Homo sapiens: one gene and its partner. The protein of the gene in region 2 purifies or fractionates together with the protein of the main gene of each other region. This does not show direct contact. Each region holds a gene or a part of one and is shown on either strand. Other genes may lie near its edges.

Evidence for each region. Proteins that work in one complex are often made in the same cells at the same time.
Region 1: the proteins of ZNF584 (region 2) and MPP1 purify together in Homo sapiens (affinity purification with mass spectrometry; one large-scale study listed by BioGRID and IntAct). This does not show direct contact.

The regions. Positions count from the first base shown.
Region 1 is NC_000023.11:154,784,986-154,788,485, reverse strand, and holds part of MPP1 (55 kDa erythrocyte membrane protein), read left to right. Parts: intron 1-2,085; coding exon 2,086-2,282; intron 2,283-3,328; coding exon 3,329-3,435; intron 3,436-3,500. UniProt on the Homo sapiens protein: Essential regulator of neutrophil polarity. Regulates neutrophil polarization by regulating AKT1 phosphorylation through a mechanism that is independent of PIK3CG activity.
Region 2 is NC_000019.10:58,414,902-58,419,019, forward strand, and holds the end of ZNF584 (zinc finger protein 584), read left to right. Parts: intron 1-622; coding exon 623-745; intron 746-891; exon of another isoform or gene 892-917; coding exon of another isoform or gene 918-1,039; intron 1,040-1,909; coding exon 1,910-2,883; 3' UTR 2,884-3,426; downstream 3,427-4,118. UniProt on the Homo sapiens protein: May be involved in transcriptional regulation.

The DNA of each region.
Region 1 (3,500 bases), on a different chromosome or scaffold from region 2:
GTTTTTTTTCACCCTTTGGCCATCCTGATGGTGGTATCACATTGTGATTCTAAAAATTCTCTAATGACTAATGAGGGTAAACTCCTTTTTATATGTTTTTTTCCACTTGGATATCCTCTTTTGTAAGATACCAATTCAAGGCTTTTCTTACTGATTTGTAGCAGTTCCTCATATATTCTGGATAAGAGTCCTTTGTCATATGCATCCCAAGTATGTTCTCTTCTTCTGTGGCTTATTTTCTTCATGGTTCCTGTTAATGACTAGAAACTCTTAATTTTAATGAAATCCAATCTACCACTTTTTTCTGATTAGCACTTTTTATGTCTTGTTTTAAAAGTTTTTACTTACCACAAGGTCAACAAGATATTCTCCTGTGTTTTCTTCTAAATGCTTACTTGTTTGATTTTTCACATTTGGATCCACAACCCATCTGGGATTGATTGTTATATACATTGTAAGGTAAGAGGTCAAGATTCCAGTTTTTCCATATGGATACCAATTGAACCAGTATCATTTACTGTACACTGTCACTTTTGTCATGGTAATATTTACAGGTCTATTTTGGAACTTTTTATTCTTTTCTTTTGGACTGTTTGTTTATCCCTGTGTCAAACCTACATATCAGTTTGGATAAAAGAGGCATCTTCACAGTATCCCAGTGGAAGTGATGATAGCAGACATCTTTGTTTATTTTTCCATCTTAAAGGGAAAGCTGGCCAGGTGTGGTGGCATGCGCCTGTAATCCTAGCACTTTGGGAGGCCGAGGCGGGTGGATTGCTTGAGCCCAGGAGTTCGAGACCAACCTGGGTAACATAGCAAGACCCATGTCCTTTGAAAAAGGCAGGGAAAGCTTTTAATCTTTCACTGAGAAGTATGACGTTGGATGTAGGGTTTCTGTAGGTATTCTTTCTCACAGTAAAGAACCTCCCTTCTATTCCAAGTTTGCTAAGAATTTTAATCTTGAATGGGTTTTGAATGTTATCACAGGCTTTTTCTGCATCTATTGAGGGGATCATATGATCTTTTTCCATTTTTATGTTAACGTGGTGAATTTATTGCCCTTCAGGTAGTAAACCTTCTTATATTGCTGAACTAGATCCTGTTTGGTTGTGATTTATTATACTTTTTATACATAACTAAATTTGACTTGCTGATATTTTGTTTGGGGTTTTTACATCTCTGTTGCAGAGAGAAATTATAAGATTCTTGTCAGATTTGGGTATCATGCTTATAATGAGTTGGGAAGTGCCATCATTTTCTATAATCTGTTTTCGTATGAGATTAGCCTTCTTTCTTCAAATGATGCTTGGAAAATTTGTCAATGAAGTAATGAGGTAGGTGTGTGTGTGTGTGTGTGTGTGTGTGTGTGTGTGTGTGTGTGTGTTTGGGAGCAGGAGAGGAGAATTTTCAATAATAAATTCAAGTTCTTTGATAGATATGAGTGTCCATATTTTCAATTGTGAAAACAGTTGTTCAAAGAGTAGCTGCCCTGTACTGAGACAGACGACCCAGATCCAGCAGTAACTGTGGACACGTTGACGTGGAAAGATATCTCATGCCTTCTTTTTTTTTTTTTTTTTTTTTTTTTTTGAGACGGAGTCTCACTCTGTCGCCCAGGCTGGAGTGCAGTGGCACAATCTCGGCTCACTGCAAGCTCCACCTCCCGGGTTCAAGCGATTCTCCCGCCTCAGCCTCCCGAGTAGCTGGGACTACAGGTGCACGCCACCACACCCAGCTAATTTTTGTATTTTTAGTAGAGACGGAGTTTCACCATGTTAGCCAGGCTGGTCTCCAACTCCTAGCCTCATGTGTTCCACCCGCCTCGGCCTCCCAAAGTGCTGGGATTACAGGCGTGAGCCACTGCGCCTGGCTTCTCATGCCTTCTTGTTAAAGGGATTCATTCTGACCCCTCCGCAAACACAATCACTTCAGCGTTTCAATTTCTCTTTCTTGGGTGCTCCCCCACCATTCTTACCTCCCTGTTGTTCATTCCATCCTGACCCCATTTGTCTACAGCAGGACATGCTCTGATGCTGGTGTTTCTTTTGAAGCTGCCGCCTGCAGTTCCTTTTACCTTCTTTTTAGATGTTCATGAGAGCGCAGTTTGACTATGATCCCAAAAAGGACAATCTGATCCCTTGCAAGGAGGCGGGACTGAAGTTTGCTACTGGGGACATTATCCAGATTATCAACAAGGATGACAGCAATTGGTGGCAGGGACGGGTGGAAGGCTCCTCCAAGGAGTCAGCAGGATTGATCCCTTCCCCTGAGCTGCAGGAATGGTGAGCCATTTTTGTGCAGGTGGAAGGGCCATGTGCCTGCCACAAATAACTTAGCTTCAGAAAATCTGTCATTTTGTTTGTAGTTTCTGTTTCTCAACCAAGGAGACCTCCTAGATTTCCTGGCATAATGGGTGGGGGAGGGTTAACCATGCGTTGATAAGCTGGACTGAGAGGCAACCACAGGCAAGGGAGCCCAAATAGCTCTTCATTCTTATGTGGGCCTCTTGCTTCCTTAAACGTTTTCCCCATAGTTACCAAGCACGTGACAGTGCTGGGACTGAGCCCTCCCTGGTCTCCTGTTTCCCAAGCTAGTGCGCTTCTACCAGCCATGCTGTTTCTGGGATTTCCTTGGAGTCCTGCAGAAAACAGTCGCATTTAAGTATGTGTCCTTTAGGCACATTCCTGGTACATGGAAGAAATAATTCCTGTCCCCGAGTCAGATTGCTCACTTAGTCCTGGTTACATCATAGGAATGGCAGAAAAATTCACAAAACAGTTCCAACTGATAAGACATCCAACACTGAGCCTCCCTCTGCCTGTGCAAACTTACCCCAGTGTAAAGATTACAACCATTGTGGGGTTGACACTGAATAGAAATATTAGAATATATTACATGTAGTAATACAAGTTATTGTTTTGTGAAGCAGTTGTTTTAGATATATATGTGGGGTGTGTGTATGTGTTTTGTTTATAGATGTATGTGCAATAATGGCTTGCAATGTACAGTGTATTTCTTAGAGTGAGGTAGGGTCATAAAGGTTTGAGACCTTTATGGTCTAGACCAAAGAAAGAGAGTTGTTTGTGGGTTGTGTCCAGAATGTGCTGACAGGTACTAGATGACACAGACTCAAGGAGCCAGGTCCCTGACTGAGGGCAGGGCACAGTGCAAGATGCACCAAACAGTGTATGGGGTGCTTTGCACACATTATCTCCCACTGTAATGGACACTCAGAGAGTGAAGGGGGTGCCATTAGAGACTGAGTGGCTGGGGGGGGTATGAGGGGAGGGGGAGGAAAGCTGACCCCTTGATTGTCTTTTCCTACCAGGCGAGTGGCAAGTATGGCTCAGTCAGCTCCTAGCGAAGCCCCGAGCTGCAGTCCCTTTGGGAAGAAGAAGAAGTACAAAGACAAATATCTGGCCAAGCACAGCTCGAGTAAGCTTTCTGAGCCTTCTTGCCCCAGGTTCCTGGCAGCATTCACGTGTTTCCCAGTCTCTGTA
Region 2 (4,118 bases):
TGTGTTTTTGAGACAGAGTCTCGCACTGTCGCCCAGGCTGGAGTGCAGTGGTGTGATCTCAGCTCACTGCAAGCTCTGCCTCCCAGGTTCATGCCATTCTCCTGCCTAAGCCTCCCGAGTAGCTGGGACTACAGGTGCCCGTCACCACATCCGCCTGATTTTTTTGTATTTTTAGTAGAAGGGGGGTTTCACCGTGTTAGCCAGGATAGTCTTGATCTCCTGACCTCGTGATCCGCCCACCTTGGCCTCCCAAAGTGCTGGGATTACAGGCGTGAGCCACTGCGCCCGGCCTGTTTGTTTGTTTTTGAGACAGGGTCTCACTCTGTTGCCCAGGCTAGAGTCCAATGGTGTGATCGTGACTCACTGACGCTTTGACCTCCTAGGCTCAAGTGATCCTCTCACTATGGCCTCCCTAGTAACTGGGACTACAGGTGGTGCATGCCATCATGCCTGGCTAATTAAAATAATATATTTTTTGTAGAGTTGGGGTCTTACTGTGTTGCCCAGGCTGGTTGCGAACGTCTGGGTTTAAGTGATCTCCTACCTCACTTTCCAAAGTGCTGGGATTACAGGCATCAGCCACCATGCCCAGCCTGTTTCTTTTACTACCTGTCACCCGCAGGACTTGCACCTTCGAGATCCCCTGTGTTTACCCAGCTGGAGGATGATGAACAGTCGTGGGTGCCCAGCTGGGTGGATGTGACTCCAGTCAGCAGAGCAGAAGCCAGGAGAGGTTTTGGTCTTGGTAAGTGGAGTGGAGGGGAATACCTTGGTTTCAGCAGTGGGCTCACAGAATGCTGAGTACCTGCATACACCGATACCTTGGTGTTGAGGGCAGTGACCATACCTTATTTCCTTCCACCTTTCCTGTCTTATGTGGACACTGTGCAGTCTGCCATCTCTACCATGATTTTCAGGCCCCGCATGTTCCTGCCTCTCTGGCCTGCGTCTCCTCATTGCCCTTCTCTGTATCTGTGCAGAGCTGTCTACTGTTGGCGACTCAGTGCGTGTCTTGAAATGTGCACATATCCTTAAACAGGTATTTGAACTTCAGCCAATCCTTAATTAATACTTAAACACCAGCTACTATTTTGGAATCACATTTTGCTGGGACTAGACACATGCCTCCTCATAGTGCTTGGCTGTCACCAGCAGCCAAGGCCCTGCTGAAACCCTTTGCAGAGGAGTGACTTGGAGACCCCACCTCTCTTCCCTGCACCATATCCTATCTTGTGCCCTCATCTCAGTTGAGGTTTTCCTTAGTCTGTAGTCTGGTGGAGCCATATTCAGTTGTGCCAGGCTTTCCCAACCCAGACCTTTCCTAGCAACCTCTCAGCAATTCTTTTTTTTTTAAGATGGAGTTTTGCTCTTATTGCCCAGGCTGGAGTGCAGTGGCGCAATCTCAGCTCACTGCAACCTCTGCCTCCTGGGTTCATGCCATTCTCCTGCCTCAGCCTCTTGAGTAGCTGGGACTACAGGCGCCTGCCACCATGCCTGGCTAATTTTTTTTTTTTTTTTTGAGTCGGAGTTTTGCTCTTACTGCCCAGGCTGGAGTGCAGTGGCGCGATCTCAGCTCACTGCAGCCTCTGCCTCTGGATTCAAGTGATCCTCCTGCCTCAGCCTCCCGAGTAGCTGGGATTACAGGCATGCATCACCACACCCGGCTAATTTTGTATTTTTAGAAGAGATGGGGTTTCGTCGTGTTGGTCAGGCTGGTCTCGAACTCCTGACCTCACGTGATCTGCCCGCCTTGGCCTCCCAAAGCACTGGGATTACAGGCGTGAGCCACCACGCCTGGCCCTTTCAGCAGTTCTATGGAGTCCTTCTGGGTGTGTCTGACATGCACTGGTGATTAAGGTACCTCCTCCCTCTAGTTCAACTCTTAGTAATGATTCATCTCTGCTTTCAGATGGTTTGTGTAGAGTGGAGGATGAGAGAGCCCATCCTGAGCATCTAAAGAGCTACAGAGTCATCCAGCACCAGGACACTCATAGTGAGGGGAAACCAAGAAGGCACACTGAGCATGGGGCAGCTTTCCCACCTGGTTCCAGTTGTGGGCAACAGCAAGAAGTCCATGTGGCAGAGAAGCTGTTCAAATGCAGTGACTGTGGGAAGGTGTTCTTAAAGGCCTTTGCCCTCCTTGACCATCTGATAACGCATTCTGAAGAGAGACCCTTCAGATGCCCAACAGGCAGAAGTGCTTTCAAGAAGTCAGCTCATATTAACCCCCGAAAAATTCACACTGGAGAAACAGCCCATGTGTGTAATGAATGTGGGAAGGCCTTCAGTTACCCGTCTAAGCTGAGGAAACACCAGAAGGTTCACACAGGCATAAAACCTTTTAAGTGTAGTGACTGTGGTAAAACCTTCAACCGCAAAGACGCACTTGTTCTACACCAGAGGATTCACACTGGAGAAAGGCCTTACGAGTGCAGCAAATGTGGTAAAACCTTCAGTGTTCTGTCTACCCTCATTCGGCACCGGAAAGTGCACATTGGAGAAAGGCCCTATGAGTGTACAGAATGTGGGAAGTTCTTTAAATACAATAATAGCTTCATTCTTCACCAGAGAGTTCACACTGGAGAAAGGCCTTTTGAATGCAAGCAATGTGGGAAAGGCTACGTGACCCGTTCAGGCCTCTATCAGCACTGGAAAGTCCACACTGGGGAACGGCCCTATGAATGTAGCCTGTGTGGGAAAACCTTCACTACCAGATCCTACCGCAATCGGCACCAGCAGTTCCACACTGAAGAGAGGTCTTATGAATGTACAGAGTGTGGGAAGGCCTTCAAACATAGTTCCACCCTCCTTCAGCACAAGAAAGTCCATACTCCAGAAAGGCGTCAGGAGGACAGGGCACATGGGAAGGTCGTTAGCTGCTAGCACCGTGTTCATCAGGAAAGGTCTTATTCCAGAAAGGAGGTTAAGGAGAGTGGCCGTGAGAGTGCCATCCGAAAGAAGCTAAACCTTGCACATCCCAACACCCACCCCAGGGAGAGTTCCCGTGTGTGCCTGGTGTGTGGGACGCTTTCGGGAGCCACATTGCACTCTGACTTGCCTGGGGCTGTTGGCAGTGTCACATCACTGAGTTTATCCACCGCCATCCACCTCTATCCACCCCATAAGGTCCCTACAGCAAGTGGGACAGCAGACCTTGTGCTCCTTGCTCTAAACAGTAGAGAATCGTTAATAGTGGAGCCCAAAACAGGCCTCATTCCCTACCCTTGACTGGTTTAGCTGTGGACATGACCCACCTCTGGCCGGAGGAGCTGAGCTGGTATCTGCTGGGGGCTTCCTGGGAAGGTTTACCATTTTCATGGAAATGGTTGACATTACACATGGTATTTGTCATGCCCTAGCATGGACTGTCTCATACTGCTCTGGACTATGTGGTAATAAAGGCTTTATTGTTTAAGCCGCTTAAAATTTTTTTTTTATTTTTTTTTTGAGATGGTCTTATTCTGTTGCCCAGGCTGGAATGCAGTGGTGCCATCATAGCTCACCACAGCCTTGAACTGCTGGTCTCAAGGGATCTTCCTGCTTCAGCCTCCTGAGTAGCTGGCACTACAGGTGTGCGCCATCACACCTGGCTAATTTTTTTTTTTCATTTGTGGACAGGGTCTTGCTATATTGCCCAAGCTGGTCTCGAACTCTGAGCCTCAAGCTATCCTCCTGCCTTGGCCTCCCAAAGTGCTGGGAGCCACTGTGCCTGGCCTAGTTTTTTTAGAGACAGGGTCTCACAGTCTTGCCCAGGCTGGAGTGCAGTAGTGTGAAGCTAGCTCATTGCAGACTTGAACTACTGGACTCAAGTGATCCTCCTGCTTCAGCGTATTGAATAGCTAGGATTGTACTTGTGTGGCACCACATCTGACTAATTTTAAAAATTTGTATAGAGACAGGATCTTGCTACATTGCCCAGGCTGGTCATGAACTCTTTGCCTCAAGCAGTCCTCTTGCCTCAGCCTTCCAAAGTGCTGGTATTATAGTTGTGAGCCACTGTGCCCTGCCAAGTCTCTTTTAATATTGAGGTTCTGATCCCTGTGTGTGGAGAGATTGAGAATAGAATCCGGCACTATCACCGTAAGTTGAGGGAATGGCTTTTGTGGAGGTGGTCTCTT